Linked DNA regions of Homo sapiens: regions 2, 3, 4 and 5 are each reported to be linked to region 1. Evidence: microRNA targets listed by miRTarBase, many of them from high-throughput screens and not tested one by one. Region 1 holds a microRNA gene; each other region holds the end of a gene's coding sequence. Distances are from middle to middle.

The links. The annotated mature microRNA hsa-miR-548b-3p reads CAAGAACCUCAGUUGCUUUUGU and lies in region 1 at 3,356-3,377, shown strand. An mRNA with a match to its seed (bases 2 to 7 or 8) in the 3' UTR can be bound and repressed. Matches are read on the target gene's strand: a 7mer-m8 pairs with bases 2 to 8, a 7mer-A1 pairs with bases 2 to 7 and ends in A, and an 8mer does both.
Region 2: miRTarBase lists HHLA2 as a target of hsa-miR-548b-3p. Seed matches in the 3' UTR shown: 7mer-m8 at 3,710-3,716.
Region 3: miRTarBase lists MMS22L as a target of hsa-miR-548b-3p. Seed matches in the 3' UTR shown: 7mer-m8 at 1,212-1,218 and 7mer-A1 at 343-349.
Region 4: miRTarBase lists CCDC149 as a target of hsa-miR-548b-3p. Seed matches in the 3' UTR shown: 7mer-m8 at 3,204-3,210 and 7mer-m8 at 4,306-4,312.
Region 5: miRTarBase lists MYO16 as a target of hsa-miR-548b-3p. Seed matches in the 3' UTR shown: 7mer-m8 at 5,993-5,999.

What each region holds. Positions count from the first base shown.
Region 1 is chr6:119,066,018-119,072,438 of GRCh38, reverse strand. MIR548B (microRNA 548b) reads left to right here and starts at 3,296; the gene lies at 3,296-3,392. The region is part of intron 1 of FAM184A (family with sequence similarity 184 member A); the gene reads left to right.
Region 2 is chr3:108,374,380-108,380,800 of GRCh38, forward strand. HHLA2 (HHLA2 member of B7 family) reads left to right here. Exons shown (of 10, transcript NM_001282556.2): 8 at 1,371-1,421; 9 at 2,114-2,178; 10 at 2,879-3,906. The coding sequence ends at 2,899. It overlaps MYH15 (myosin heavy chain 15), which reads right to left. Exons shown (of 41, transcript NM_014981.3): 41 at 5,989-6,421. Among named protein-coding and RNA genes, the nearest start is that of HHLA2, 81 kb to the left of the region's middle. RefSeq lists an enhancer at 2,410-3,609.
Region 3 is chr6:97,142,464-97,148,884 of GRCh38, forward strand. MMS22L (MMS22 like, DNA repair protein) reads right to left here. Exons shown (of 25, transcript NM_001350599.2): 25 at 1-4,424. The coding sequence ends at 4,343. Among named protein-coding and RNA genes, the nearest start is that of MMS22L, 140 kb to the right of the region's middle.
Region 4 is chr4:24,804,044-24,810,464 of GRCh38, reverse strand. CCDC149 (coiled-coil domain containing 149) reads left to right here. Exons shown (of 13, transcript NM_001395273.1): 13 at 1,646-6,421. The coding sequence ends at 2,076. Among named protein-coding and RNA genes, the nearest start is that of SOD3, 12 kb to the right of the region's middle. RefSeq lists an enhancer at 1,142-1,722.
Region 5 is chr13:109,206,634-109,213,021 of GRCh38, reverse strand. MYO16 (myosin XVI) reads right to left here. Exons shown (of 35, transcript NM_001198950.3): 35 at 5,017-6,388. The coding sequence ends at 6,186. Among named protein-coding and RNA genes, the nearest start is that of MYO16-AS1, 43 kb to the right of the region's middle. RefSeq lists an enhancer at 706-1,905.

The sequences.
Region 1 (6,421 bases):
AAGTGGCCTCATAAAACATAGCAATTGGCTGTGTTTCACCTTAGCACTAGTACATGCCAAATGCAGCATCTCTTTTTCTTTGTTACATTGTAGCTTTGCCATGCTGTTATGCAGTGGCTTGGATGTAATCTTTTAGTCATAGTGGAGTGGTTTGGATTAATTTGTTGCATTTTACTAATGGACACAAAAGCATAGTATCCTGTTAATTAACTGGTCACAAACTTATAAAGGGACTTCCTTTAGAGTTAAAGATTTAGAGTTAAAGGTTAAAGGTTTAGGTTGGGTGCCCTGGCTCATGCCTACAGTCCCAGCACTTTGGGAGGCCAAGGCAGGCAGATCACTTGAGGCCATGAGTTCGAGACCAGCCTGGCCAACATGGTGAAATCCCGTCTTTACAAAAAATACAAAAAATTAGCTGGTGTGGTGGTGGGTGCTTGTAATCCCAGCTACTTGGGAGGCTGAGGCACAAGAATTGCTTGAACCCAGGAGGCGGAGGTTGCAGTTGAGATCATGCCACTGCACTCCAGCCTGAGTGACAGAGCAAGACTCTATCTCAAAAAAAAAAAAAAAAAAAAAAAGATTAAAGGTTTAGACTTTAGACTGTGACCAGGCTGACCCTCTCATTTTATAAGTATAGAAGGTGTGAGGGCTCGGTGCCATTTGAAGATTACTCAACCTGGACTCACATTCAGCTCTCTAGATTGGTCTAGGTGGGGGTGGCCACACTAACAGGCCTCTTTTCCCTGTGTCTACCTTCTTTCTAATATTACTTATTCAATAAGAGACCACAGAGTTATTGTTTTTCCATGTTGGAACCATGTTTTACTTACCATCTGAATCAAATTTTTGATAAGGGTGAAACCAACCTGTGTCTCCTCTGTATACTTACTGTGGAACTTTCTGGGTTTATAGGTTGTATATTTTGTATACTATGACTTGGTCACTTTGTAACAGAGGTTTATTGTGTGTGCTGTCAGCTAAATGTCATAATATTTTCATGTTTTTATTAACAGGTTTAGTCATTCCAAACTGAAACGTATTTAAAATAACATTAACTTAGAGACTGCCATACTTGGTGTGAAAATTACTACTGTGGTTATTTTAAATGTCTTTCTTTTGACTGCTTTCATTCTTGATTAGATTGTTGCTTAGACCCCATTCCTAAACACAGTAAATTGCAAGTTTTCCAGTTTTTATTGATTCACTATCTGTTTAGTTTATGAAAATCCTTTGCTAGCCTCTAATCACCAGTCTTAAAAAGTGTTATGAAAGATAAAGATTCAGCAGGAATATGTGACTGGAGTAATTTCTTCATTTTAATTAATAAGTTCCCTATACTTTAACTTTTAAAATTGTGATATTTTTGAAAATTTTGTATCTCTTAAATGTGAGATGGGAATGAAGAATAACCTGGGTCTATAAAGCTAATTAGTTTGTGGAAGAAAATAGGAGGTAATGGGGGCCAGGGGAGTATTGATAAAATACTGTTATTTTGCCCTTTCAATTGATCTTGTGAGTTTTTTTTTTTAAAGAAAATCTTCATAAGCATTCAAATAAATTTGAATATTATGCCATGAAATGGAAAGGATGTGAATGACGGGAGTTCGTAACGCCATTCTTTTTATTCACCACAGGAAGTTTCTATCCTGCAGCCCACTTCAGAATGTAAAGGACATTAAGTAAATGTCAGAATTGGTGCCCCATGTCCCTTTTTTGGAGATAGACACCTATGGGAGACAATCACTAACTGATTTCAGGATTAGATAAATAGATAAATAAAAACAGCAACATTGAGATCCCATCTCTACTTTTTAAAAAATAAAAATAAAGAAAAACAATGTTATAAATGGTAGTTTGATATGGGGGAATCATATCAAACTATTAGGTTTATATTTTATATGTCAAGTGTGGTCTAAACCATAGGGGGCTTTTTAGATTGACCTAGAGAGTTAATGGTCCTTCAAAATATTGGAAAATATTCTTTGGCTGCCAATCAATTAATATATAAAAATGAATTTTTGAAACAATGATATTTGCAAGTTGGAGATTGCCAGTTGTATTTTGGTATGCTTAACCTTTAAGACCAAGCAAAAATTTTAGAAAATCTCTGATTCTTAACTTTTAACTAAATTACATCAGTGAACAACTGTCATTTGTAACCTTATTTCACCAAGGATTACATCTTTCTTTTCTACCAAAACTTCAACGAGAATGTATAAAAAGTAGTGAAGTTGAATATATGAATTTTTTATCCTGTATCTTACACTATTATCTTGAGATGCAAATGGAAGCTGAAACTATCAAAGGATCTATAGTACATGGAAAAACAAGACTTAGTGATTAACAATCATATGTGGGATTTGGATATTTTAGACTTGGCTACCATGTGCTACCTCATTTAATTGTAAAGGAGATAGTACTTTGATTTTTTTAATTGCTAATTCTGTATTTCCTTATTTACATGTACCATCTCTATACCAAAGTTTGAGGAAGTTGGAAAGTAAAACATTTCATCTATAAAGTGCATTACTAATATTTAAATTATCAATAAAATTGATAATTTTAGTAAAATAACAGGGTAAATTCCTATTTATGCGAAATTATTAGAGAATGAATTATTTTAGTTAACTAGAAGTTTCCATAGGGGTTAATAAGTTTTCACTTTCTCATATAGTATACTTACATTTACATCATACCATTCATATATCACACTGGAGTTCTTCATCAACTCCAGATCATTGTTAGGATCATCAGTGCATATATAGGAAATTGGACCAAACTTATGCTAGTCCTATTAGGCCAAATCCATGAATGCTGATATTTAATTTCTGAATAAATTGTTACTTGCCCTTTTACTTGTCATGTCTTTTTTACTTATAAAATGAAGTGTCGCATTTGGATATTTACAAATTCTAGACATTGGCCTTGGTGGTTGAGCAGATTTTGTTTATTCTGGCGAATGTGTGTCTATGTGTTCACAGGTATTTGCATTTTTCATCCTGTAGCTCCTTAAGCACAGTTTTAAAGATTCTCATTTCTTTCAGAAAACATTTTATGACCAAAATACTAAATAGTATTCTTTGCCTACCTTTAGATGTTTCGCCTAGTGAATTTTGGGAGGAAGGTGTGTGTGTGTGTGTGTTTAATGGTCTACTCAGAGTAATAAAATATACTTAGATATGACCGAAGTAGAATATATAGGTCTATGTGTTTGGTAAACTTGTCGAATGCCTACTTTATGAAAGACATTGTGCTTGGTACTATTAATTATTTAATACTATTTATTATTCCATTTCAGACTATATATTTAGGTTGGCGCAAAAGTAATTGTGGTTTTGGCCTTTATTTTCAATGGCAAGAACCTCAGTTGCTTTTGTGCCAACCTAATACTTCACATATATTTTCCAACAGACTTGAGAAAATGTAACTGGAATATATTAATCATATATTTTAATTACAACATATTTATCAGTACATTAATTCTGACAAATTTTAGATGTGTAATCATGGGCAAATTTTTCTATTTGGTTTCGTTCTTTTTGGGTAGAACTTATGTACGTGCTTTTCTTGGATAAAGAAACTATACTGATACCTTCTAAATTCTCTAATAAGGTTTTGATGACTCAGTTGACATATTCTGGTTACAAATCTCTAATATATTTGGCTGGGGGGTAGAGCGGGTAAAAGGAAATTTCAGTCTTGGAAACCCCGGAGTTAATGTGTTTGTGTTAGGTTTAGGTTTCTCATGGGCAGCCGGAGAGCCACATTGTTCCCAGAGCCAAACGGCCCAGTGAGGCAGCAGTGCCCATCATATGGGTCAGAGGTGTGGTTCAGTAAGTTAGGCATTCCCTTATTTGAAGTTCACCTTCACCACTTCCTAGTGTTTGACTTTTAATACATATTTTAACCACTCAGGGCTGTCTTGTCCTCATCTGTAAAATGAGAATGACAAAGCGTACTTCATAGAATTATTATAAAGATTAAAGGAGATAATTGATGCAGGAGAGAGAAGTCAGTTTGTACCCACTATCCCCTCCCCACTTGGTTAAGCCTCTGCTGACATACTCTTTAACAATAAAGTAGGTTTTTAGGCCAGGCGCAGTGGCTCACACCTGTAATCCCAGCACTTTGGGAGGCCGAGGTGGGTGGATCACACTTGAAGTCAGGAGTTCGAGACCAGCCTGGCCAACATGGTGAAACCCTGTCTCTACTAAAAATACAAAAATTAGCCGAGTGTGGTGGTGCATGCCTGTAATCCCAGCTACTCGGGAGGCTGAGGCAGGAGAATTGCTTGAACCCAGGAGGCGGAGGTTGTGGTGAGCTGAGATTGCGCCACTGCACTCCAGCCTGGGTGCACAGTGAAACTCCATCTCAAAAAAAAAAAAAAAAAACCCACACACAAAAAAACAATAAAGTAGGTTTTTATATGTCTTTATTTTGTTTGTTTGTTTATTTATTTATTTTTTAGAGATAGAGTCTGGCTATGTTGCCCAGGCTGGAGTGCAGGGGTGCCATCATAGCTTGCTGCAACCTTACACTCCTGGGGTCAAGTGATCCTTCCACCTCAGTTTTCTGAGTAGCTGGGATTATAGGTGCAAGCCACTGTGCCCAGCTATATTTTCTTTTCTGATGGATATATAGTCTACATTGTTGGGGACCATAGCTGTCAAGTAAAGGTTGAGCAGCAAATAAAATATAGTCAGTTCTCATTATTCGTGGTCGTTGTATTGCATGGTCTAGGGAGAATACAGAGCTAGGTTCCTGACACCCTCTGGTCACAACATTTTCACCAACTGATCAATGTATAACCTTGTTTTATGTGTGTTTCTGTTTAAAACACCTTTTAAAATATATATTGATCCATTAACAGTGAAGCCACAGCCAAATATCACTATAACTCATGCCTGAACAAAGGTTATTTAGCACACCTTGAGTGTTAGATTTTGGGGTTACATGTAAATTTTAGCAAGTAAGATAATTTACAAATAGGGAGTCCATGAGTAAAGAAGATCAACTGTATCTAAAAATGGAAGCACAACTTTGCATCTGCTGTTTTCTTAGCTCCTGCTGTTTATCAGCTATTGTTAGGGGCCTAAGTGACTATGACTCTTATTACCACCCTAAACACCCTCACATGAGTGTGACTTTGACTCTCATTATCTCAGTAAACACCCTCAGATGAAAGGGGTGGAAAGGATAATGGAGGCTGAAATACTAATCTTTTGTGTGACTTGCCAGTCACCTACAGGCCACCCTACAATCATAAGCATGGGATAAATTCTTTCCTTGTATGTTAATTGTAATCTTCAAGATCTAAACTTGAATCTATCACATTGCCCTACATCAGAAAAAGGAAAAAAAATATGTAAATGATTCCAGGGCATGGAGCAAAACCTTTAAAAAATAATTTATTTTAGTTTAAATAAAATCTTTCATAGTCATCATTTGCCTAAAACATGTTTGCAGTTACTTCTTTTCTAGCATAAATTGTCACTGTGGGAGTTGGTTTTGTTAAAAGTCTTTGTCTATGTACCTAAAGATAACTTGAAATCTTATACAGTTCGAGGCTATAGCACATTTGGTTGGATGTTTCTGAATTAACCTTATGCAACATACAGAAAACTTCTGCAATTCAATTCATATCTGTCCACACTTTCTTGTTTCAACCCCCTAGTAATTATCAGAAAAAGGAACCCAGTTAAGAGTACTACTGTGATCATGAGGGAGTTGGCAAAGATAACTGTCCTGGAATAAATAACAATTTGATCTGGAGCCAAGCTCATTACTATAATATTGCTCTATTTAGGACCATGTATATCTTTAACCTTCAATCCTGAGTCACTGTTGCTATTTGCTCTCTCTATTCTTACTTCTGGATTGTGGAGCATTGCTAGAGAAAATTATGGAACTGGACTGTAGCAGCACAATGGCACCCTCAAAGATGTTCACGTTCTAATACCTAGAACCTGTGAAGATGTTATCTGACATTAGCATTAGCAGATGTGGTTAGGTTAGGGATCTTGAGATGGGGAGATTATCCTTGACTATTTGGATGGGCAACTGTAATCACAAGGATCCTTCTAAGTGAAAGAGGGAGCCAAGGAACACAGGTGGCCTCTGGAAGCTGGAAAAGGCAGGGAAACAAGTTCTCCCCAAGAGCCTTCAGATTTTGGCCCAGTAAAACTATTTTCAGACTTCTAACCTCAGGAATTCTAAGGTTAGTACATTTGTGTTGCTTTAAGACACTTGGTGTTAAATTGTTACCACAACATGGCTCTCTACAAAGTCATGTAGGCCAATTTTGTCTGATCACTCAGTATTGCTGCACTATATGATGTTGTTCTCTGAATTGTTCACAGCTGTGGACCGTGTGTCCTCTCTTCCTTCCCTGTACACATGGGATGGATAAGCTGCTATTTTA
Region 2 (6,421 bases), not on the chromosome of region 1:
AAGAAAACCTAGGCAATACCATTCAGGACATAGGCATGGGCAAGGACTTCATGTCTAAAACACCAAAAGCAATGGCAACAAAAGACAAAATTGACAAATGGGATCTAATTAAACTAAAGAGCTTCTGCACAGCAAAAGAAACTACCATCAGAGTGAACAGGCAACCTACAGAATGGGAGAAAATTTTCGCAACCTACTCATCTGACAAAGGGCTAATAACCAGAATCTACAATGAACTCAAACAAATTTACAAGAAAAAAACAAACAACCCCATCAAAAAGTGGGCAAAGGATATGAACAGACACTTCTCAAAAGAAGACATTTATGCAGCCAAAAAACACATGAAAAAATGCTCACCATCACTGGCCATCAGAGAAATGCAAATCAAAACCACAATGAGATACCATCTCACACCAGTTAGAATGGCGATCATTAAAAAGTCAGGAAACAACAGGTGCTGGAGAGGATGTGGAGAAATAGGAACACTTTTACACTGTTGGTGGGACTGTAAACTAGTTCAACCATTGTGGAAGTCAGTGTGGCGATTCCTCGGGGATCTAGAACTAGAAATACCATTTGACCCAGCCATCCCATTACTGGGTATATACCCAAAGGACTATAAATCATGCTGCTATAAAGACACATGCACACGTATGTTTATTGCGGCACTATTCACAATAGCAAAGACTTGGAACCAACCCAAATGTCCAACAATGATAGACTGGATTAAGAAAATGTGACACATATACACCATGGAATACTATGCAGCCATAAAAAATGATGAGTTCATGTCCTTTGTAGGGACATGGATGAAATTGGAAATCATCATTCTCAGTAACTATCGCAAGGACAAAAAACCAAACACGGCATATTCTCACTCATAGGTGGGAATTGAACAATGAGAACACATGGACACAGGAAGGGGAACATCACACACCAGGGACTCTTGTGGGGTAGGGGAGGGGGGAGGGATAGCATTAGGAGATATACCTAATGCTAAATGATGATTTAATGGGTGCAGCACACCAACATGGCACATGTATACATATGTAACAAACCTGTATGTTGTGCACATGTACCCTAAAACTTAAAAGAATAATAATAATACAAAATAAATAAAAATAAATTGTACATCAAGTAAAAAAATTAAAAAACTAGAGAAGCAAGAGCGAACAAATTCAAAAGCTAGCAGAAGACAAAAAATAACTAAGATCAGAGCAGAAATGAAGGAGATAGACACACGAAAAACCCTTCAAAGAACCAGAGAGTGACTTTCAATTGAAGGACAGAGCCATACCAAGGTGACCTTACAGGGAAACAGCTGGGAGAGTAAATACCTAATTTCACTCTTCCCTGTCTCTGATCTACAGCCCAGCTAGAAGCCAGGAGGAGCAGACACCCTGCTGATGGAGCCCAACAAGGTCAGCCTCCCATGTCTGAGAGAAGAATGGATTCTGGTTCTGGAGGAGCAGTCAAAAGATATCGGCAAAAACTCTGTCACAGTATTGGCCACTTTAAAAAATAGATATATTCCATACTTCTGCAGTGAGATGGGCTGAAAATATATTTGAAGCTGTTATATGAAAAGCCACAAAACCTTTCCTAGCTCCAGCTCCCTGGTTGTAGTTTCATGACTGTGGTTCATATGTTTTATTTTTAAATTCCCTTTTCTATTACTGTTTTAAAATGTACTTTGTCTAAGATATGTATTAAAGGGCCATATTTTAGGAAAGTCCATAAGGAGACCTTCTTTGAGAAATGACATATCCCTTTTTCTTTAACCATCACTCTCATCCCCTCTTTGGCTATGACATTTCCATTGTTAGCAGTTGGTAGGAACCAGGCCAAGGATCACAAGGAGCCAGGAATTGCTGAGCTGACTGAACTGCCTTTATTCCCCGGCTTTGGAGCACCTGGATCAACCATACACATTTACTGCTGCTTCTGATGATGTGTTTTTACACTGAATGCATTTTTCATGTTGTTTGTTAAAGATATGCAGGGAGAGTAACTCAGATGATTCTAATAACATGATTATATTGAGATAGGACTAAGGGAGAATTTTGGTGTTTGCAAAGAAATTATTTTTAAGTTCTCTTTTTTTTTCCTGTAGAAAGATGTTGTGTCCCTCCTGGTGAGCGCTGTCCCAGTGCACCCGATAATGGCGAAGAAAATGTGGTAAGGCATTATTTCCTTTATCAAACCATATACAGTATAAAAATGCTTCTTTAAAAGGGTAATTGAAGTTCTGACTGATTCACATATCATCAAGCAAGACTTTTATACAGAAAAAAACAGCAGCAGGGGTTGCAGGATAATATAGCACGAAAAATATAATTAGGCTTTTCCCAATGTCTATAATTAAACAGGCTCTACTTGCTTAAATACATGGTTGTTCTTCTTGTCTCCTATTGTTATTTGTAGAGAAGATCTCCAATGGCATTGTGCATATGAGGGTGAGCCAATGTACTTATTCTTATGATAGAAGCATGAAACATGGGATTGTATACAAGTGGAAAGAAACACAACTATAATTCACTTGCAAATTATAGTTTGATTGTATACTTCCTTTTTACTGCATTCCTTTTAGTATTTATGTGTTCCATTAATCAGAGTATAAATAAGGGCCAGGAGTGTGGTAAACTTGTTTTTTCCACTGTTAAAAACCATGAAACAGCTAGTAGGGAGATTAAAATTAACTGATAAGACTCAGACTTATTTTATAATGGTCTCATGGATCTTTAATTTCAGATGCAAGCAATAGACTAAAGCTTTTTGCCGCCCACCCCAAAACACTACTATCAATAAATATTTAAGATATAAATGGTTATTCTGACTTGAACAACAGACATTTAGAGTCTATTTTTCTTGCTTCTAGCCTCTTTCAGGAAAAGTATAGGAAATGAGAGAAGACTGTGACAACTCATGACCTGCATCCTTAATATCCAGTGACTTCATCTCCCCTTTCTTCACCACAATTCCAGGCAATGGCCTGTCGGAGCAGACAATTCTACCACTGCAAAGAGTTGTAACCATTTTCTGGTATCACATTTATTTTTCAAGACATACTTTTCAAGACATCATTCACTGACCCACTACCTGCATTGAGTATAAATGCCTGGATGTTAAGGATTCCAATTTAACTTTGAAAAGAACTGTCTCATTCATTTACATTTCTGTTACAGTCAGCCCAGGAGGTTACAGTGAGCTCTCCACTAAGAATCTGGAAGAAATGCATCACTAGGGGTTGATTCCCAATCTGATCAACTGATAATGGGTGAGAGAGCAGGTAAGAGCCAAAGTCACCTTAGTGGAAAGGTTAAAAACCAGAGCCTGGAAACCAAGATGATTGATTTGACAAGGTATTTTAGTCTAGTTTTATATGAACGGTTGTATCAGGGTAACCAACTCGATTTGGGATGAATCTTAGGGCACCAAAGACTAAGACAGTATCTTTAAGATTGCTAGGGAAAAGGGCCCTATGTGTCAGGCCTCTGAGCCCAAGCCAAGCATCGCATCCCCTGTGATTTGCACGTATACATCCAGATGGCCTAAAGTAACTGAAGATCCACAAAAGAAGTAAAAATAGCCTTAACTGATGACATTCCACCATTGTGATTTGTTCCTGCCCCACCCTAACTGATCAATGTACTTTGTAATCTCCCCCACCCTTAAGAAGGTACTTTGTAATCTTCCCCACCCTTAAGAAGGTTCTTTGTAATTCTCCCCACCCTTGAGAATGTACTTTGTGAGATCCACCCTGCCCACAAAACATTGCTCTTAACTTCACCGCCTAACCCAAAACCTATAAGAACTAATGATAATCCATCACCCTTCGCTGACTCTCTTTTCGGACTCAGCCCACCTGCACCCAGGTGAAATAAACAGCTTTATTGCTCACACAAAGCCTGTTTGGTGGTCTCTTCACATGGATGCACATGAAACTATGAACATAAGAATCTCTGAAGTTAGGTTACACTTGACCACACAAGGCTTGCATAGTTGAGTGACTAGCCATGAAGATAATTTAAACAACTCTTCTGGCTCAATTGGCATATTGCTAATCAATCTTCTAATAAATTTAGATTTTCATATAAATTTTTAAGCAAGAGAAGGGAGAACTCAGCTAACCTAATCTGTTTCCCTTAATTTTAGTCATCAATTTACATAAAAGAAACAGTCTAATGTTAATGCTTGTGAACTTGTCACTATAACCAGGCTTTTGTGTGACTTAGTAGATCAAGGTTTCAACTCTATAAGAGAAAGCAAATTCTGAATTGTGGTGTAACTGCCACCTGGTCCAATTTTATCTGACCTCAGTTTCACAATCCTCTCCTTGTATGTAGTTAACTCTGTTTTTGCTACAATGTTGTGATGGGTTATCACAAATAGCAAAGTATTAAGAATTCCAGTCAGAATGTTAATTATTAAAAAGTCAAACAATAGATGCTGGCAAGGCTGTGGAGAAACAGGAATGCCTTTACACTCTTGGTGGGAATGTAAATTAGTTCAACCATTGTGGAAGACTGTGTGGCGATTCCTCAAGGATCTAGAAACAGAAATACCATTTGAACCAGCAATCCCATTACTGGGTATATACCCAAAGGATTATAAATCATTCTACTATAAAGACACATGCACATGTATGTTTATTGCACTATTTACAATAGTAAAGACATGGAACCAACCCGAATACCCATCAATGGTAGACTGGATAAAGAAAATGTGATACAAACACCATGGAATACTATGCAGCCATGAAAAGGAATGAGATCATGTCCTTTGCATGGACATGGATGAAGCTGGAAGCCATCATTATCAGCAAACTAACACAGGAACAGAAAACCAAACCACATGTTCTCACTCATAAGTGGGAGCTGAACAAGGAGAACACATGGACACAGGGAGGGGAACAACACACACCAGGGCCTGTTGCAGGGTGGGGGGCGGGGGAGGGAACCTAGAGGACGGTTCAATAGGTACAGCAAACCACCATGGCACACATATACCTATGTAACAAACCTGCATGTTCTGCACGTGTATCCCAGAACTTACTTAAAGTAAATTTTTTTTAAAAAAATAAATATAACTTAGATATCTTTTAAAAAAATTCCATTGTGAAGAAAAACTCCATTGAGATAATATTTGTCTACCATCTCTGCTTCCCCCTAGCCTTGGTTCCTTTTTAAAAATTGTGTCCTAGTGAGAGAACATGATACTTAATAACAAAACTGGATGCATCCCCAAGCTGAAGTTTTACTTTACTGAGTATGTGCCTGGGGTGTGGAGAAACAATAGCATCCTAACTTCAGGATTGGTAATATGACAACAGCAAATTTCTAAGAAAAGGTTTGGGATATAGAGATGTTTCCTGAATATAAACATTGGCTTATTAAAGGATAATTCCAAACATTTTTTACTGAAGTTTTAAAAAATTACTATTCCAGGAAAAAAAAAAAACCCTAGAAAAGTTCCATGTTAAATGTTTCATGTTGTTTTCTCATTGCGTTAAGACCGATGGTAAGAAGGAGCGACTGCTTTGGATACAGCCCGACACACATACCTGCTAGTTCACTCTGTGGCTGTGCATCCCTCTCCGCCAACCACAAAACTCAAATTTGGTTCACCTTGCTCAAAATGGTACCCTGATTTTTCAAGAGCATCCACTTTGATCTGTCTGAGCCAACCCTGACAATTGCAGTCCTCTTGCCACTAGACTGGTTCAGCATAAGCAGATAAAGAAATCTGCTCACTAGGGTATGAGGAAAATTATTCCAGAGGTCTGTTTCTGGGAAAGTGTTTCTCCATTTTAAGAAGAGACAGGTTATCGTATGGGGAGAAAATGCTCAGGACTGCTGAAGTCCTCTTACGGCGACAAGAGATTCCGACAAGAATGAACCTGGGTCCTCTGATACCACTGAGTCCCTGAATTAATCGTCAAGCTACCCATATGAGTCAGGGTTGGATCAGGGAGGCAGAATCAGAGAATGACAGAATAAAGATTTATTATAGAGCTTCAGCCTTACACAATTGTGGGTGCTGGTGGAGAAGTCTAGGCCAGGCTGTTCCCTCTGCATCTGGTTCTGGGCCTGAAGTCACTGTAGGTCGACTGTGAATGCAGCAAGGATGAAGGGAAGTCCATAAGAACAAACAGAACCCATGTCTGTCTCACGGCCTCCACTGCAATGCTGTGTGTGATCTCAGGAAAAGCTGATGCTGGTTGCCATGGAGCTGCACACACACCTGGCCAGTACTTTGCAAAGCTGAAGGAGGAGGCTGGCAGGAGCTGGAAGAGCTCTGGGTCCAGGGAGCTGTCTCTGGTCTCTTCTAGCTCCCCTTTTTGGCCTGGAGTCATATTTTCAAGCTGTCACCATGCTTGGGTCTGTACACTGACCTTATGAGTATAAAATAGCTGCTGATC
Region 3 (6,421 bases), 22 Mb from region 1:
TTTATATTGGCATACTATACTCTTGCCTGACAGGCAATATTTTTAACTCTAAGAGGGGTAGGTAAAAGATCAGTTTTTTGGAAAATAAAAGATTTATATAAAAAGTCTGGATAAAAAAGCAGTGGTTTAGTACAGATGATTCAACTTTTGGTGAGGTTTCTGTATCTATTTACCTTTTAGACATGGGGAGACATGAGTGCTATGATAACATACGGTTTGGGGAAGGCAGATTTCTAAAGGCTTTTCCTAACTGTAGAAGCTTGTCAAATTTTTATATAACATACAATTTTTAACTGTCAAAGATTCTGTGAAAGTACACAGAAGCAGGTCCGTGTAATTATTTAAGAACAAGGTAGTTTAAAAAATGTGTTGTAAAGCATGGAAGAAAATAATAATAGGTAAGGAAAACCCACAAACATCTGACTCACAAATATTTTCTTATACAGATGCTGAGGTAGAAAAAGTCAAATATGCTTAAGAAGAAAACATACGAAGGATAGGTAAAGATATACAAGTTTTAAACTATGAAATTCCTCTAATGCAAATGAACTCAATACTGAATGACTTTTCCACAGTCCTCCATGCTTCCTTCCTTGCCATGGAAACGTTCTAATTAAATTGAAATTTAAATCATAACCAAATCCAAATGCCTAATAAAGTCCTTTCATCACTCTGTTGTCCTTCAGTTGTCTTTTATACTCTATCTGGTATTTTATAGATATTATTTGACTGGAATACTCATGTATCCAAATGTATATTTTAATTTTCTTCCTATTTAAGTGTCTTCAATTTCTATAGGAAAGAGGTCCTATACAGTTTCCATGCTGTAAACTGAATGAGGCTGAGTGTAGGATGAACATGGCAATCAGAGAAAGCTGCTAAATGAGCCTCTTGTTTGGAAAGAGATAAGCTTGAAGATAAAGGTACAGTCAGATAGGTGGCAGAAAGTCTCCAGACTGAAGGGTTTGAACATCACCTTATAAACAATGGTAAGTTACTGGAAGTCCTCGAGCAGAAAAGTAACAAGAGGAAAACAGTATTTTAGGAATACACATTTCAGAACATAAGCTGTAGGAGAAGAAACCAGAGGTAAGGAAATAAGTAGTGCCCAACAGAAAAAACAAACAACCAGTGGATGCAAGGCACTGCAAAAAGATAAAAAGAAGCCTAAGATCCTGTAATGGTAATCAACTGAAAGTGGGAGAAACATGAAGAACCTAAAATGCCTCTGACATTTCAAGGCTAAATAACTTAGGACAATAGTGTATTCCCTGGGTAGAAAATGAAAGCAGGAGGTAGTCTGAGATTTCAGGAGACTCCAACTACAGAGGTTTAGAGATGAATTAGCACTAGGTGGCTCATCACGCCTGTAATCCCAGCACTTTGGGAGGCCGAGGCGGGCGGATCATGAGGTCAGGAGATCGAGCCCAACATGGTGAAACCCCGTCTCTACTAAAAATACAAAAAAAATTAGCCGGGCGTGGTGGCGGGCACCTGTAGTCCCAGCTACTTGGGAGGCTGAGGCAGGAGAATGGCGTGAACCCGGGAGGCAGAGCTTGCAGTGAGCCGAGATCGTGCCACTGCACTCCAGCCTGGGCGACAGAGCAAGACTCTGCCTCAAAACAACAACAACAACAACAACAAAAAAAAAAAAAAAAAAAAAAAGAGAGAGAAAAGCTGGAGTTATCAGTTCACCACTAACAGAATGTTGAGACAAAGCAGATGAAGGGTCGTATCTTACGACTGGGGACAGGAAAGAAGACCATGAAGGTGCTCTCAAGATACAGTGGTCATTTTTGGTCTGGGGACTGGTTCCAGGATCCCCTGTGCATACCATAATCTGCACTTACTCAAGTCCTGCAGTTAACCCTGAGGAACCTGCCTCTACAAAAAGTTGGTCCTCCATATACTCAGATTTTGCATCCCACAAATACTGTATTTTAGATCCACATATAAGTGGACCTGCACAGTTCAAACTTGTGTTGCTCAAGGGTCAACTGTATATGTAGGAAGGAGCAGTACCATTGTGGAAATGATGGGAAGATAAAAGAAAATACAATTGTCACAGAGAGGACAAAGAACATGAGAAAGGAGAACAAACTCAGATTTGACCAAAAGACAATGGCTTGTATTACACTGGTAGAAGCAGCAGCCTCAGAAATTACAGGGTATTTAGGGAAAGTGGCTATTAAAGAAGCAGGTATAAGGGACTCCAAGTCTGGGAATGAAAGAGGGCAAGATTGTAGTAATAAGTGAAGGATCAGTGAAGATTTTAAAAAAAAGGAACTGAGCCATAAATTTTCTTCTTTTTTCAATTTAAAAAAAAGCTTTAAAAAAAGTTACTTATACATAAATACAAAACATATAATACACACACATATTGTTACACACTTTGTTGTTACCATTCTTAAGTACAAATTTTAGTTATTCTTAGTATCTATAGATATATGTCCTAAAGCATGATTCAGTAGCAGCTTTTCCTATCCTTTAAACGTTTTCATACTCTAAGGAGCAAGATTCTCAAAGGTATCTTTATCAATCTCCTTTGGAAAAAAAAAACCCACACACACACACACACACACACACACACACACACACACACAAAAACACATATACACATAAATAACCTCTTTAAAGGCATCACCTTAAATAGATAAAACTCCTTAGTGACTGCTGGAACTTTCCAAGCCATACATTATTTGTTTAGTAAGTCACTATCATGATGAAAAGAAATTCAGTGTTATGAAGTCTATTAAACAGCCTTAAGCTTTCATTTATTCCCTTTGATGAAGCTGATTTGAGAGAAGGACCATTTATATGTTATGAAAATAACAGACACTCCTTTGGATTTCACAGATTATAATTAAGAGAACGCTATTAACTACAGAATACTGATTGCAAAGTATTTCATTTTTAAAGATACTCCTTGAGCCAGAGAAGGGTTGAAATGTTTTCTTGAAGGAAGAGTAGAACCATGATAAAGACTATAATCCCAAGAAGGAAACAAAGTACTTCAAAGTTAGAAAACATGATGTAAGAAAACATTGGAAAGTGGGATCATTCATCTGGGACATATCATTAGAGAAAGATAAAATTGAGAGGTGTTCTTTGCCTTAATTGTGCACGAGTAATAAACTAATCGTGTCTGTACATTTCCCAACAGAATTTGGGCCACCAAATATTTTCACGTACATTATCCCATTGATTCTCACAACAACACTGTCAAATAGTAAAGGGATTCTTCTTTTCTTCTCCATGAAGAAACTAGACTGAGAAAGGTTACGTAACTAGCTCAAGATCATAAAGCAAAGCTGAGTTTGAGACCCAGGTGGGTTCCCAAAACTAGGACTGGAGCTCTTTCAACCAAATAATGCTCAATAGGAAAAGGAGTCAAGGACAAGCTCCAACTGGTAAAACAATCTGGATGAGTTAAGAGTTCAAAAGTTGAGAAACAATGTTGTTAAAGGAAACTAAACAGGTTTCTTGGATAAAATGCTAAGTTATAAGAAGCTCTGGCTAAAGAGCAAGAAGATGGATCAGCTGACTTCTCAGACCACTACTATTGTTACTTTTCTAGAATATTTTTATTTACTCTCCTCTTAAAGTCTCCTTTATTTCCTCCTCCTGATATGATTTTTTTTTTAATGACAACTCCAAAAGAAAGGATGAATAAAAAAAAAATTTGGCAACTCTTGGAACCTAAATATAAACCCTGTTGGCATGTTTACACTTCTTTTTGGATATCAGCTGTATAATCCTTTAGCCAGATTCAGTCTCATTCCTAACACAGTTAAGTGTGCTTTGTAAGGGTTTTCTTTGTTAACTTGCCTCACACATATAAAAAAGAAAAACAAATACACAGTCACATTTCCCAACACCTTTCCCCCACCAAAAACACAGTATAGGGTAGCCAGGTACTTTGAAAAAGTATCATTTTAAAACATAACTATTATTGTAAAAATAAAAAATAAACATGACAAATCAGTCACAAGGCAGGGAGGCAGGAAGTCATACTACAACAAAAAGTCTATGGATGAAGTATCTGCTTAATACTCACACACAGAAAACACTCTCAGAAAATGTTTCTTTAATTTAGTTTAACTAAAATTTCATCAAGGTAGAATGCAGTTTTGTAAAAAGTTCCAAGGATCCTATTACACAGTTGCTAATTAACCTTCAGTTCCTTATTTATACATTTTTTACTTACAGATATAAAAGGAAAAAAAATCCTAGAAATTATTTTAAACAGAACATTATACAATTAATTAAAAGTAGGAATTAGAGTGGAACAATGTGGCTTTAGATACTGATAATTAATAGACAGGATGAATCACAAAATATATTAAGTATTATCATTTTCCAGTCTCTGCATCTCATCTTGTCCCATCTGTCCAAGGTGAGACAAAAGTTTGCTATAGGCTTCCCTGTTTAAGAAAAAAGAAAAGAAAGCAAATATATTAACATTTTCATTATTTTTCATTTCAGTATTTACAAATTAAGTCTGCCCATCATCCATCCATCCATCTATTCAGCCATCCATCCAGCAGGCTTAGCACAACACTTCTTAAAAAGTAATGCTTTATATCTATTGTGAGTAAACCTAGATGTTAAGATGTATTAAAGTATGATTTTTATATATAAAATGTGTGCTAAAAATGACATGTAAAAGTTCATTAACCTTCCGAAATATTATAATGCTCACGGGTAATAAAATGCATTCATGGAATATTATTTAAGGACAATGATGGTATGATTACAATGGGAAGACTTGTATCACAAGCGTAAGTATTAAAACAAAAATTCTGTAACCATAAAATAGACCTGTGTAGCAATTTCAGTATATATCCCATTTTCTTCTTTTAACTTCTTATAAGTAACAAAGTTTGAAAATAAAATATTGTTTCTCCTCCTACATTCTCTAGTACTTCCCTGTATTTGGAAGGTGTTTTAGATGATTTATTGTGCCTAGTAGTTATCTCACTAGTCTAAATACCTGTTCTGTTCAGAATCTTTAGAACCAAACTTCTTATGGGCCTGCATAACCACACAAGGTAGTAGGCCAGAATATTTGTTTTAACAACATACTGCATTAGGGTGGTTCACACACAGCCTCTCTAGTTTTTTCACTCAAATTTGAAGACTGCTCAGAGAAGCCAGATGTGAGACATGTCTGTGCATGAGCTTGTTTTGTGACATGACAATAAACACCATTTCTTCAAGCTACAATTTGAAGTGATTCAATCTTCTCTCCTTAGAAAACCACAGGAGGCTAGCCAAGTCACCATGCAGAAGAAAGGAGATGTTCCATTCTGGCATACAAAAGCTTTACAAGGATGATCTCTCCAGTCCGCACCCCCTGCCTTTTATATGAAATGGCATTGAAAAAATGGATTCCATTAGTTAGCTAAAGCTATAATCAACATAGTCATGTCTTCAAGAAAGATCTCATATATTGTTTAATAAAAAATTTTTGTCTAAAAATTGGAATATGCATATTCATTAGAGTGTGTATTTGTACAGATAAACAGACACACATGCATATGATTATAGTCATGCACTACATTAAAAACATTTTGGTCAATGATGGGCTGCATTTTGGTCAATGATGGATCCCATTAAGATTATAATGGTACTGAAAAATTCCTAATGCCTGGTGATGTTGTAGCCATTGTAATGTCTTAGTGTAATGCCTTACTCGTGTTGTTTGTGGTGATGCAGGTATAAACAAACCTATTGTACTGTCAGTCATATAAAAGTCTAGCACACACAACTATACATAGTATATAATACTTGATAATAAGAAAGAATGTTACTGGTTTATGTATTTACTATACTTTACTTTTTATTGTTATTTTAGAGTGTACTCCTCTTTATACTTATAAAAATAAAAGTTAACTGTAAAACAGACTCAGGCAGGTCCTTCAGGAGGTATTCCAGAAGAAGGCTTCCTTATTGCAGGAGACGACAGCTCCATGTGCGTTACTGACCCTGAAGACCTTCCAGTGAAGTAAGATGTAGAGGTGGAAGACAGTGATGTTGATCATCCTGACCCTGTGTAGGCTCAGGCTAATGCGTGTGTGTCTTCATTTTTTACAAAATAGTTTAAAAATAAAAAATAATTTAAAAATAGAAAAAAGCTTATTCAAGAATATAAAGAAAGAAAATATTTTTGTACAGCTATACAATGTGTGTGTTAAGCTTTTTTACAAGAGTAAAAAAGTTAAAAAAAGAAAAAGTTTAAAAGGTAAAAAAGAGTAAGCTAAGGTTAATGTATTATTGAAAAACTAAAAATTTTAGAAATAACTAATGTACTCTAAATGTATTATGTTTATAATGTCTACTACAATAGTGTACAGTAATGGCCTAGGCCTTCACATTTATCACCACTCACTCGCCGACCCACCCAGAGCAACTACTAGTC
Region 4 (6,421 bases), not on the chromosome of region 1:
GTCCAGGAGTCCTGGACTTGGAAGTGTTTGCAGGGGTTGGTAATATTTTGTTTCTCATCCTGGTTATATGGGTGAGTTCACTTTGTGAAAATTCATTGAGCTGGATACATAAGTTCTGTGCACTTCTCTTTGTGTATATTATACTTCCATTTATAAAAGAAAGGGAACTATTTTTTAAATATTTTTGAATGCTTAGAATGTGTCAGACACTGGATGAGTCAGATGAGGCTCCTGTTCTCATGGACTTAAATTTAGAATGAGATAAACACGTCAAATGTTTAGTGCAGTGCCTAGTGTGGAAAAGCACCCAATAAGCGTTAGCTGGGAGGATTTATTTAACAGAGGGGAGAAACTGATCAGTGCATGTGGAGACCTAATGGGTGCGTGACATGGCTGGGAGGACACGTGTGATGAAACTGTGTGAAATGAGGCTGCAGAGTGAAACAGGAGCACATCAGCAGGACCTTGTAAGGGCCTAAGCGAAAGGAAATTTATCCTGAAAGTGACAAGGCTCCAGCAGAAGGTTTTAAGCAGGAAAATGGCATGGCCAGATGATGCTCAACATCCTTTCTAACCTGCTGCAGTTCTCCAGCTCCCCAAGTTCCAACTTACAGCCTGAAAACATACCTGCGCATATATGATAGCAAGCCCCACTACAGCAGGGTTCTGCTGTGGTTCCATTCAGGGGTACCAGAAAGTGTTCCTGGGGGCCCCTCATTCCTGGTCCAGGACATGTGTCCAGGCTAAACCCAGTCCCACTGTGGCTCTGTCATACCTTTCTTCACTGTTTAGCCTGAGGGCTGGGAAGAGATTGGCTTCTGGGGAAACTCAGTGTCTGTTATTGAATGCACATGCCCGGGTACTAAGAGCTGGCTCCGCCATGCTGCTCCCCACTCATGCAGAGCAAGCATTGCTGGTTAGGTCCAGAAGGGGCATCAGAGAGTCCTATCCTGATCACAAAGCAAGTGAGTAGGGAAATGAGGGCTGGATGTCAGCACTTTAAGGGCTCCCCCTTCTCTCCCATGTCCTTCCTGTTGCAGTGCTAGAATTTCCATCCTATAGAGAAGGGGTTTAGGGACAACAACTCAACAGGGGAGGGAGCTTGAAGGTGTATTTGCATATAATTTATTTGATATTGAGGAACACTAGGTGTCCGCATTAAGGAATGAGATGCTGATGGAGAATCGTGGAGAAGGGGTGGCACTAAATCCTTCCCGAACTATCCTTCTTCTTCCCACCCTCAATGCAGCCGGAACCTTTTTTCATTACTAACAAGCCCTGGCTCTCAGCTGCAGAACCAACAAAACCTTTGTCCTCAATTTAAATATTTAATGGGCACAAGGAGCGGCCATTAGAGAATGGAACAGAAGCTAACCAGGTGCCTGGAAAGGATGGATTATGACATGGCCCAAGTGCTCCCTTGCCCTCTGTTAATAATGCAGGAATCACTAGAATGCATGCTCGCTGGTTTCACCTGGGTCCTGTGTTCCCCTTTGGCTCCATTGCCCTGCACAGGGAGCCAAAAAAGTCTTGCTCCTTTTTCAGAGGCCCTGTGCTGGTAGGCTGGGCAGGAGGTTGGCAGAAGAGGGGCGGTGAGGGCTGATTTGCTGCCAGAGGTTTAATGTTGTCCTCGTTCTGTTTTCAGGGGAGGCTCAGAAGCAAGAAGAAGATGAAAGTTGTGCCGCTGCTGAGGCGTTGACAGCGCCTGAGGATGCTGGGAGGCCCGCTGTCAACTCCCCAGCAAATCAGAGCCGCGGGAACCAATGCAAGCTCTTTCATCCTTCATTACCCCAGTTACCTTCTGAGGAAGAAGTAAACAGCCTTGGGAGGGAAATAATTAAACTGACAAAGGAACAGGCAGCTGCAGAACTGGAAGAGGTCAGAAGAGAGAGTCCCATAGAAGGTCAGAGGAGTGAGACGGGGCCAGCCCCGCCAGGCCTGGCCATCCAGGGGGAGCTCCCTAAATCTCACCTGGACTCCTTCGAGGCCAGCCGGCCAGCAGCCAAAGCTTCCACACCGGAAGACGGCAAAGGGATCCCAGAGGGCGGAGGCATGAGGAGCACCGTGAAAACCTGAAGGGGAGAGGGATCTGACACAATGACACATTGAAAGCCCCAGAGAGGGTCAAGAATGAAGCATCGGAATGGTGCGCTCACGTCGCCTTCTCCTGAAATACCTCCGAGTCTGCAAGTGAGAAAACGCACTGATCCTGTTGCAAACTGTGAATATTCTGATGATGCCAGTACAGTTTGATTTATTAAATGTAGGTCCTCAAGCTTCTCAGTGTCATCTCTTTTCTGCCAGAGAGTGCTACTGTGAACAGGGCCAGGCCCAGGAATCGTGTCCACCATATGGCTGGTTTTCAGCATCCGTCTTTCTGTCAGCTTTTGTTTTATCAGAGATAAGATGTTTTTGTATTAGCATTTAATGTTGTCAATCAAAATTATGGGAAGAGCTAGAAACTGATGGGGTTTTTAATCAGGTCCCCATCTTGGTCAAGGTTAGGCAGCTGGAGAGGAAGGTATAATTGAGCAAAACGTGTCCAGAGGACCCATGGCTGCACCCCATCAAGTCAGGGCCCAGGAGGACTGCCTGGCATGGGTGTGCTTGGCATTGTGCCCACAGCACTGCTGTCGTGGTACAGACTGGCAGTTGGAAGGGGCCTTAAGCCGGCTGAGAAGTTTGGGCTTCTGGGTTGAAATCCACAGCCCCGGTTGAGGCCTGTGTGCTGAGTGCCAGAGCTGGAGTTTTCTAGCTTGTAAATCTGGAGAATTAACTGATCTGAAGTGACTGGGAGGGGTGAGCATAAAAGCCGGGGAACAGGACTCCCAGTGGTGGTCTGGTTTTTTTTGTGAGATGAGATGAGAGCTACCACCTGGAAATGCTCATTCTCTGCATTCAGCCTGTCTCACATACAGGATTGTATGGCCATTTCAGGTTTGGGAAAGATCTACCTGCTGGGAGCCAGTCTAGTTTCCTGCACCACCTGGAACTTCCAAACCCTTCACTCCTTCAACAGAATGTTGAGGCTGCCTCATTTGTGCCACCAAGTACGGGAATCTTAAAGACAGAAACAGAGCTCATGACCTTTTATGGGAAAGAGAGAGGAAAACAAAACAACTTCACAACAGCATGGCAAGGGGGGATGTGGAACCAAGGACATGATACAGGGATGGGAAAGGAGGGCATGCTCAATTCTAGCTGGTTCTTTCCTTTCAGATAAAAATGAGCTTTTCTAGTTGGCATCCGGCACTGCAGAAAACTAAAAGTCATCCAGCCATAGCTTTTTCCTTCCCTGGAAAGCCTGAGACTAGATCCCAAAGCTCAGAATGCCTCTGAGAACCAGAATCACTCCTTTGAGAGGCGCTCCTTGCAGGAAAAAGAGAGGCTCCCAGAGTGGTAGCCTCTCAGTGAAAATGCATCCTAAAAATTCAATGTTTATACCAGGCTCATGACACTAAGATGTGACATCTGGACACGAGGGGTCAGCCACGTGGATACATCCCTCCCAGATTGCATCTCCAGGAATCACTCTGCTAGCAGAATGGGCGCCCCATCCCTTACTATGCTGCTCCTCCTCAAAGTGCAGCCCAGAAGGACCCAGGCCTTTGATGCACATTGGGTGGGTCTCCCACTACTTTAGTTGAAATGGGAGCATGCTGGAGTCGGCGTTCTGTTGCTTCTGGTGAGAAGGACATCCCATTGACCCCTGGCCACCAGGTCCAGTATTCCATCCTTCCTTCTGTCCCAGCCTATCGCCCTCCCCACCAGGCCCACCCCCACAACTTCTCCTCAAGGGAGGTTGCTCCCGCAGCTGGAGGGCTTGCACAGACCAGCAGTCACAGAAATCATTCTTCCTGCTGTACTGGGCCTTAACTGCCTGCAAATGTCCAGCACTACTGCATAGGATGCCAGAGCCACCGAAGGAAAACACAGCCAAGTTTAATAATAATAAAAGGAAAAATCTCAGCCTGCAGAACTCTGGTTTTGACCCACCATCGGCCAGATGCACATCTTCAGGGCCTGTTGAGCACCTTCTGAAAAGCAGGGCTCGTAATAGACTCCAGCACATTCCATCAGAGTCAGGAAAACTGCAGTGAGTCCCAGAGAATCTAGGGTGCAGGGCAGGGAGCAGGAGTCATAAGGAGTGATAACCTAAACTGTGTGTAGTCAGCGGGGAGGGTCTTATGTTATCAGGTGAAATGAGAGCCAGTAAGTTAGTTGATCCTGTCACAGATATAACCCTGATAACACCCCATAGATACGCGACACGTGTGTCCTGCCCCTGCTTTCCCCATCCAACATGGTTCTTCTGTTCCACAGACATTAAAGGGGCTTTCTGCAATTACTTACAGCTGTCTTTTGTCTTTTTTAGGATCAAAGTTTAAGGTTGTGGCATTCTGTCCCCTACTTCACTAGATAACCCTGCATCAGTCATGGTCCTCTCAGCTTCAAGCCACACTTAACAGAAACTTAAGCGGTAGGGAAATGAATTATGTTGTATAACAGGAACTTCGAAAGTAAGGCATTCCAGGGCTATACATTCAAGAAAGTTGTCAAGGTTCTAGGTTTCCATCTTCCTGCTCTTCCTGCTGTGTCAGCTGCTTTCTCATGATAACGAGGTGGCTGCAACAGCTCCAGATAACACCTGTTCAAAGGCAGAAGGAAGTTTCTTCCCACATACGTGTGTGTGTGTGTTTCAAGAGCGAGAAACCCAGTTCCTATCACATTTTATTGGTCAGAATGATCACCTGGGGCTTGTGGTCGCATGAGACCTTGTCACATGATGATGTCACATGGCAATGTCTTAACCATTTCTTAGCAAGGGAGATGGTATTACCATGATCTGTTTAGGTTCACCAAGATTCACCCTTAAGAACTGAAGAAGGGCCCTGTCGCTAGACATTCAGACTCTAAAAGGCTGAACACCAAAACAGAATCATATCTTGGGATGTGTAAGAGAGTTGGGAATAGACAACCAATGGTGCTGTCTCTGAACCCCATGTCTTTTTGTTGCTGCATAAAAAGCCAGAAAATCATGTTTCCGATGAGTTTGGAGTTAAGGGGAGGGGCTATGGTTGTTTGCTCAGAAAAAAGCCATCTCATCCCCCCTCCCTGGCATCTTTCTGATCTGTCCTGTTCTGTAGGTGGAATGTTCCCACCTTTGTTTGCCTGTTCAGACGTGTTTGTCCTTCCATTATTTTTCCGGCTGGATTGCCAGCAGAATGCAGAGCAGCCTGGAGAAATGAAACAGAGCTGACAGGTCTCTTAATGAAAGCTTGTTTGCACACTCTGCCTCTCCTGTGATCGCTCTGTGCCTGAGAGCCTCTAGGTGTGGATTTTTACATGAGCGTTTGTCTTTCTTTTGATTAAGGCCTGTAGAAGTGGATTGGTTTTTGTAAACCAGGCATTTCTCATCCCTCACTCTTGCTCTTCCTCCTTCCACACCTTCTCTGCCCACCTTCTTCTCCCCTCCCCGTTCCTTCTCTTGCTCCCACAGCTATTCCCAAAGCCTCTCTAGCTGGGAGGCTCCTGATGGCCTCAGCTCAATGCCGGCTGGACCCTCCCAGCTTTTGGCAATCTTAAGCAAGCTAAATTAGTTTGCCCATCGTTGCTCCTCTTCTGTGACCTCCCTCCCAAACATGCACCACCATCACGATGCAAAGTGCTAGAAAAGGGCTCTGCTATCAATTATTCACATGTTGGAGTAAATTTTTTGATGTGTTATTCCTACCGGGAGCCTTTGCACCCCGGTTCACGATATGGCATGAAAAGTTCTGTCTCCTCTTTAAGGAATGACAAAGACCAGCTGCTTACTCACTGAGGTGATCTTCTCTGTCTCTTTAAAATTACAGCATGCCTTTGCCCCTGTTGGTTTTCACTCCAAAAAAATGGGGTGCCCTCTTGGCTTTGTTGTTTTCCCACAGCCTTGTGGATGACTTGGTACCCTACTTCTTTTTTTTTTTTTTTTTTTTTTTGAGAGTCTCACTCTGTCACCCAGGGTGGAGTGCAGTGGCATGATCTCGGCTCACTGCAACCTCCACTTCCCGAGTTCAAGCGATTCTCCTGCCTCAGCCTCCCGAGTAACTGGGACTACAGGCATGCACCACCATGCCTGGCTAATTTTTGTATTTTTAGTAGAGACGGGGTTTCACTATGTTGACCAGGCTGGTCTCAAACTCCCAACCTCGTGATCTGCCTTCCTCGGCCTCCCAAAGTGCTGGGATTGCAGGCGTGAGCCACTGCGCCCGGCCTGTACCCTCCTTCTTTTTGAAAAAGAGAGTACCTTCTTCCTCTGCTTTCATTCTGAAGCCTCCATTTAAAACACTCCTCCTCCTTAGCAATAGTGAGGGTCCCTTCAGACTAGATAGGATGTCAAAAGGCCAAAGCATTGCCCCCAACACACTCCTTTAATGTAGTC
Region 5 (6,388 bases), not on the chromosome of region 1:
TGGAGGCACGTTAAGCCATTTTTAGGCAGGCCATGAATTCCTCCTGGGTCTGTTCCCTGTGCTCTAATCCTCATCTACTGGCTAAGCAAGGAGCACCCGCAAAGGCCTAGAGGAGGCTGAGCCATGAGACGGACGGACCCTTGATCTTTGAATGACTGTGTCAACTGTGACTTAAGAGAGAATACTAAAATAGAAGGACAGCTTTATTGTGTGAAACCACTAGAGCCTGTGGTTGTTAAAACAACCAACTTGAGTAACAAACATAGATAGGGGTGGGAAGTCAAGACAAATAAGAAAACTGCCCACAAGTGCCACCTACCAACTGTCAGGAGCAAAACTGGGAGGTAGAGTGACTTGTACCTTTAATGAATTTTTCTCATTGAGTCTTTGTGGGCAAACTTTTGGCTTCTGAAGACTGTGGGCAGCAAGTATTATGTCTTTGTAGGGTTTGCCTTTCCTTCTGAGGCTGAAAAATAAGAGTTCTTGGTACGGGATAAAAACACGTCAGTAATGAGACAGTGTCACCTCTGATTTCCTAATTCCTTACCATTGACACCCTGAGCATCCGAGGCCATGACTCGGTGGATTTCTTGTGGCCTCTTTTTCTCTTTTGCTGGGAAAATTTTCTTGCTTTTAAAAATATAGACGGTCATCCTTTTATGTAACAGTTTCTAAGCCCAAGGGAATGACAATAGTTCTCCAACCACAAAATGCAGTTATAATTGTCTGAAGAACTAGTTCCCCTACAAAACAGGTGTATATAGATGACCTATTTGTATTAAAAAGTGTCCAAAACACTAGCTTTGTGATATTAAATGTAATTATCTTATTCAACAATAATATTGATGAAGAATAATAGGGAGTGGTCGGGTGGCTATGCTCTTCTTATTGCCACACAAAAGTCTAATGCAATTTATCATAAACATTAAGTTCGGAAAGAAAACCTCTCTTCAAATATGACAGAATGTATACATTTTTCAATTAATTGTTTTAGATCATGGCCCTCCAACCCTTTTGTTTGTTGAAATCTTAAAAGATCAAAAACTCAAATTGAATTTGGTTTTATTCCATTTTTCTTTAGAGCTTTGATCCCCCCCTCCCTTGGAATTTATCAATAGTTTCATTCTCTTTCATTTTCTTTAGACTTCAGAAGCCAAATGGTGACATCAGGAAAATGTCATCTGAGCAGGCTCGCTGGCCTTCCTTTGAAGCAGCGCTTGTTCCCTGGGGCTACAGGGAAAGGCAAGCTGGCAGATATGCAGGGTGTCTGTCCCATGACTAATTCAAAGGAAAGAAAAGACACATTTGATACATTCCTATTATAAAACAACAATAGAAATGAATGCATAGATTTATTCACCTTTAATTATTTTCTTATGAGAGGACATCAACATTTTCTTCTGCCATTATAATGATCCGGTAAACTACATAAAATTCAGATTATATTATGCTGATGTTGAAGCACACAAGAATGATATTTAAAGTATAAGCACATTTCAAAAAGCCTGGAAAATGATCTGAGAAATTAGAACAGGTGATAGAGATGAATTATAGGCACCTATTAAGACATACCCTTTGAAAAATAACATCTTTAAAGTTTATAAAGCATCCTGGATTTTAGAGAAACTTACTGAAACCACAATAATAGAACATCGCAGGGGTTTGGAGTATTTAGGTAAAGTGAAAAAAACTACAAAGATTATTCTTCCCAGTCTGTAACTCAGCATGCTACAACCTTTTGCTATCTAATGGGTATCTTTGTAACTCACGTGGACGCCTTGCAGCACAGAACATCGTTGGTAGTAGAATTTGTTTTATGAAGTCATTGCTTATGAATAAGATGTAAAGGAAGAAAAATGGGGGTGGAGATGATATTTTTAGTTTTTTGAAAGCAGTGCTACTGTTTTGGGATCCCATGAGTATCACACAGAACTCACTATTCCACAGTAAATAGAAATTTAATTGCTTTCGTCTTCATTATATGGATTTTTATGTGCAGCTAAAAACAATTTGAAAAATGTAATAAAATTACACTAAATGTTTACTTGGAACAGAGTTTTTTTTTCCTCCAGCTAATTTAAGAATCTTTTTTATTGAAACTTTCCTGATGAGAAATAGAAATCAATTCCATTCATTTCTCATCAAAAACTACATTTAAATGATTAGGAAAAAATGAGCAGTTCCAAGTGACGGTCAATGGGTGAAACGTGTCCTATTGAAGAACGTTATTATTTAATACCCTCATGCCCTTTATTGTGATACGAGTTGAGTTTGATGTCTGGCTGGAAACTGACAGCAATAGAATTTTGACAAAAGTTCATCCATCCTTTCAGACTCTGGAATTCATAATATACCTTTTGTCCAAGTTGTGTAATGTTTATTTGTGAAGTCCATTCATAAATCTTAGATTTTAATTGGTTGTTGCTTTTATTGAGCAGATTTATATAAGCATAATTCTAACTAAATTAGATACCACTATTTAAGAATAGTGATGATATATTTTTCCATCCTGGGAAATACATTTTAAATCATTTTAACTCATTGTAAACATTTGGATAGTGGTTTTTAGAGAGCTCTCATAAATAATTTTTTTAAAAAAGCAATAGAAGTGGGCAGTGTTTGAACATAGGGTAATAATTCATACCAATTATATTGCTGAACATAAGTTTGAAGCCTCAATAATACATCCTAATTCATACCTTATGGTCTGATGGCAATTAAAATACCACCATTAAATATTTTGCAAACACACATAAAAGCTGAAATCTTGCTTATGTAGAATAATATTCAGTACTTTATTACCCAGAATATTACCTCTTTATTTTCTTGACAAAGTATAATCATTAGAGAGCCATTCTGAGAGTAACTTTAATCCACACGAAGGCTTGGACTTCGTATTATTGTGACTGTTAATACTGTTACTACTGTCATGGCTATTGATGCTTTTGAGCCTCTGCTGATTTTCATATCATGTAATTAGAACAGGCACAATCAGATGGTCCTAATGTAGTGATTAACACACACCTGCAATCTCTTTCCACAGCGGAGAATCCAAACAACTAAACACAAAAGGGCTTACTTACTGATTAAGGAGATTGTGTTTAAAGGGTCTGTCCACATTGATTTAGAAGATTGTGTTTAAACAATCTATCTACAAGCGGGTTGGCTTCTAGTGTCTGAAGGTCAACAAACCTTAAATGAGGCAGAGGGACTACTGAGAGGTTAAATATTTCATGTTCATGATGCTCATAGTACCCTAATAGGTGACTGTAATGTTTACCTAGTGATGACACAGGCCCCAGTGCTTCAACTTGGGTTAATAGGGAGTTGTGTGGTTTGGACACACATGTGGCTTGTGACTTCCTTACTTCACGTAAGGTCTCCCTACAATGGTCATGCATCATCATTTCAGGTGTCTTTTCATAAAGTAAGTTGGCAATTTCTGTATATCAAATTAAAATGGCATGGACATTGGAATCATAAAGATGAGAGTTTATATCTGATGGGCTGCTTAAAGCTATAAGCTTCAATTTCAGTATCAATACAAAAATGATAAAAATTACCTTGTAGGCATATGTCAGTGCTGTGGACTGAACTATGTCCTCCCAGAATTCCTATGCTGAAACGCTGATCCCCAGTATGATGAAATTTGGAGGCAGGGTCTTTGGGATATGATTAGGTCATGAGGGCAGAGGCCTCGTGATGGAATTCATGCCCTTATAAGAAGAGACACCGGAGAGGGTGCTTCCTCCCCTTCTTCTCTGAACATGCGAGGGTACGATGAGAAGATGGCCATCTGCAATCCAGGAAGCAGGCCCTCACCAGACACGGGATCTGTGGAAATTTTCATCTTGGACTTCCTAGGCTTCAGAACTGTGGGAATACATGCTTGTTGTTGAAGCCACCCTGCTGATGGCCATTTGTTACAGCAGCCCTAACCAAAATAGCCAGTTTAGGAATCACATGGGCTGAGCACCTCGCACAGTCAGCACAATGCTCAGTGAACATTTGAAGCAAGTTCTTGCAATGTGCAATGCTTAAACAGTTTATTTTTCACCCTGGCCTAAATATATTGTGGGGAGGAGAATGCAATTCAAAGTTTTAATTCAACTAAGATCATTAAGTGCCTATTATGTCCATAGCATGGCCCAAGAAGCCATGTATCAAGGGAAAGTTGGCTTCTTCCATTGCTTCTTCGCGGGGGTGGAAGTCAGAAGGGAAAAACATGAGAGAAATAGGCAGGGAATGGGACTCGGCTGTCGTCAGGCTGGAGGTCAGGCAGAACACTTCCTTGTGGTTGCTGGGTGGCTGCAGTAACATTGCAGTAACTACATATTGACCATGTGCTTTTATTTGCTGTGTTCTGATGCTTTGGCATCTGGGGCCCTGCTGACCTTGGAGGAATTGCCATTTCCAGGGTTAGCCACGTCCAAAAGATAATGATGACTCACCCCAGAACATGATTTTCAAAGACAAGTCAACCAATCTAGAGCCCACATCCCTAGTAAGTCTCCCCTGTGGGCTCTCATAGGGCTGTCATTCCAGGCCACTCTCCACCCACCCTAATCACCTCAAGGCTAGGTCCCAGACAGGTAGGGATGGCTCCGCTAACCCAGAACCCACCGATATTTCTCAAAGCAGTCAGTTCTATGCCTGCTGATCCTGCCTTGTCCTTTCCTAGTGTTGTGCAAACTAAAATAAAAGGCTCCCCCTATGCCCTCTGCTTCCTGGCTGACCTTGGTGTGGCCCTCTGATGGCACTATGTGTCCTCTTCTCTGAGCTTTCTGAGGATGACAAGCCGTCTTTTCAATGGGACTCCCTTCCAGACCTGTTGGTCTCACCATACTGGAATCATCATAAAGCCTGTATTGTAAAACATCATTGGTGTCTAAAGTTTGCACAATGCTATGGCCCCCACATTAAGGGAGTCTGGGTGAGATCACTTCATTGTCCCTACTTCTCTGACCAGAAAACACAAGAGTTCATGGGAGACAATAATAACAACAACAAAAACAATAGAAGAACACAGTTGTACCTCTTTATTGGCACAGTAACTTTTCAAAGGCTGGTATGAATAAAAAGTTCCAAGTAGCAAGACAAGGTGGTCTGGAGCCACTGCTCAGAACTTTCCGACAGCCGACGAAAGCACATCAATGAACAAGGCCTTGCATTATGGGAGGGTTGAGGATATACAGTGAGGGAATCATGCAGTGTAAGTCCCGGGGGACGAGCGCTGTGCGATGCAGCCCCTACTGCTCAAACCAGTACATGGCAGCGTGCTCATTTGTACTGTGTAGGCCTTTGAATGAATATGATCATTTTACACCACCGGCTATGGATTTGAAGCCATACGTGTTTAACCGTGTGCCATGTGATTTCCTGTGATCTATGCTGAAGTCGGGAGGTGAAATTTAACTAAAGGGTACACAATCCACTTATCCAGAAATACAGGGCATAGGAAAGAACAGCCTCCTCATCCATGAGTAACACCTAAAACATGGGGCTCAATTCATAGTTTTGCAAGGGGTGACACTGGCGAAGCTAAAACAACAATGTAGTTTCAAGATTTAGGTGCGTTAGGTGAAAAAAAAGGACTGTGGAGGAAAAAAATAATCTAGAAATGATTTTTTAAAATCTGTATTTTGAAGAAAGGAAGCACCACCAATTGCATAAATTTATAAAATTACAGTAATAAACATGTAAATAATTATCAGGTTTATAATACCAATAAAACACAAGTAGCTACAAAGAAATAAAATATATGTCCCGTATACTGTATTATAATAAAACCATTGGAAGTACAATAAACAGACTGTTGAACCGTAGAAAAACAACTGTACAGAGTGTGCATGGATTGCTCCTTTCCTCCGCTACTCTCTCGCTCTGGCCACGTCCACACTTTTCCCAGCCTCTCTCTTGCTACCTAGGGGTAGCACAGAGCCGTAAATGAGGAGCTTGAAAATCAGAGTGTATCACCACGAGATGGATAAGAAAGAACCCACACACACACACACAAACACACACACACACACACGGGATCTCATATATTTAGTGTCTGTGTCCTGTGCTTTTTTTGTCTAAATGCGTGGAGAGAAGCCCCAGCGCATGTCAGAAGGCAGCCTTCTGTTGTTGCAGCCCGGAATCAGTAGGCAGTTCTATTTTGTAAGTCTGCAGTTCAGGCCACATCAAATGGTGGTGTCCCAGAGCTCAGACGGCAGCCTGTTGCAGGAGGCCCCTTCCGGCTTCTTCAGAAGGCTGGGCTTCTTGCAAGGTGGTGGGGGAGGCACCCTGGGCTCAGCGTGGTGCAGGATCTGCTGCCAGTCTTGTCCTTCCTCACAGAGCTTTCTCCTCCAGTCCAAGAGTTCCTGCAGGGCCACACTTTCATTCT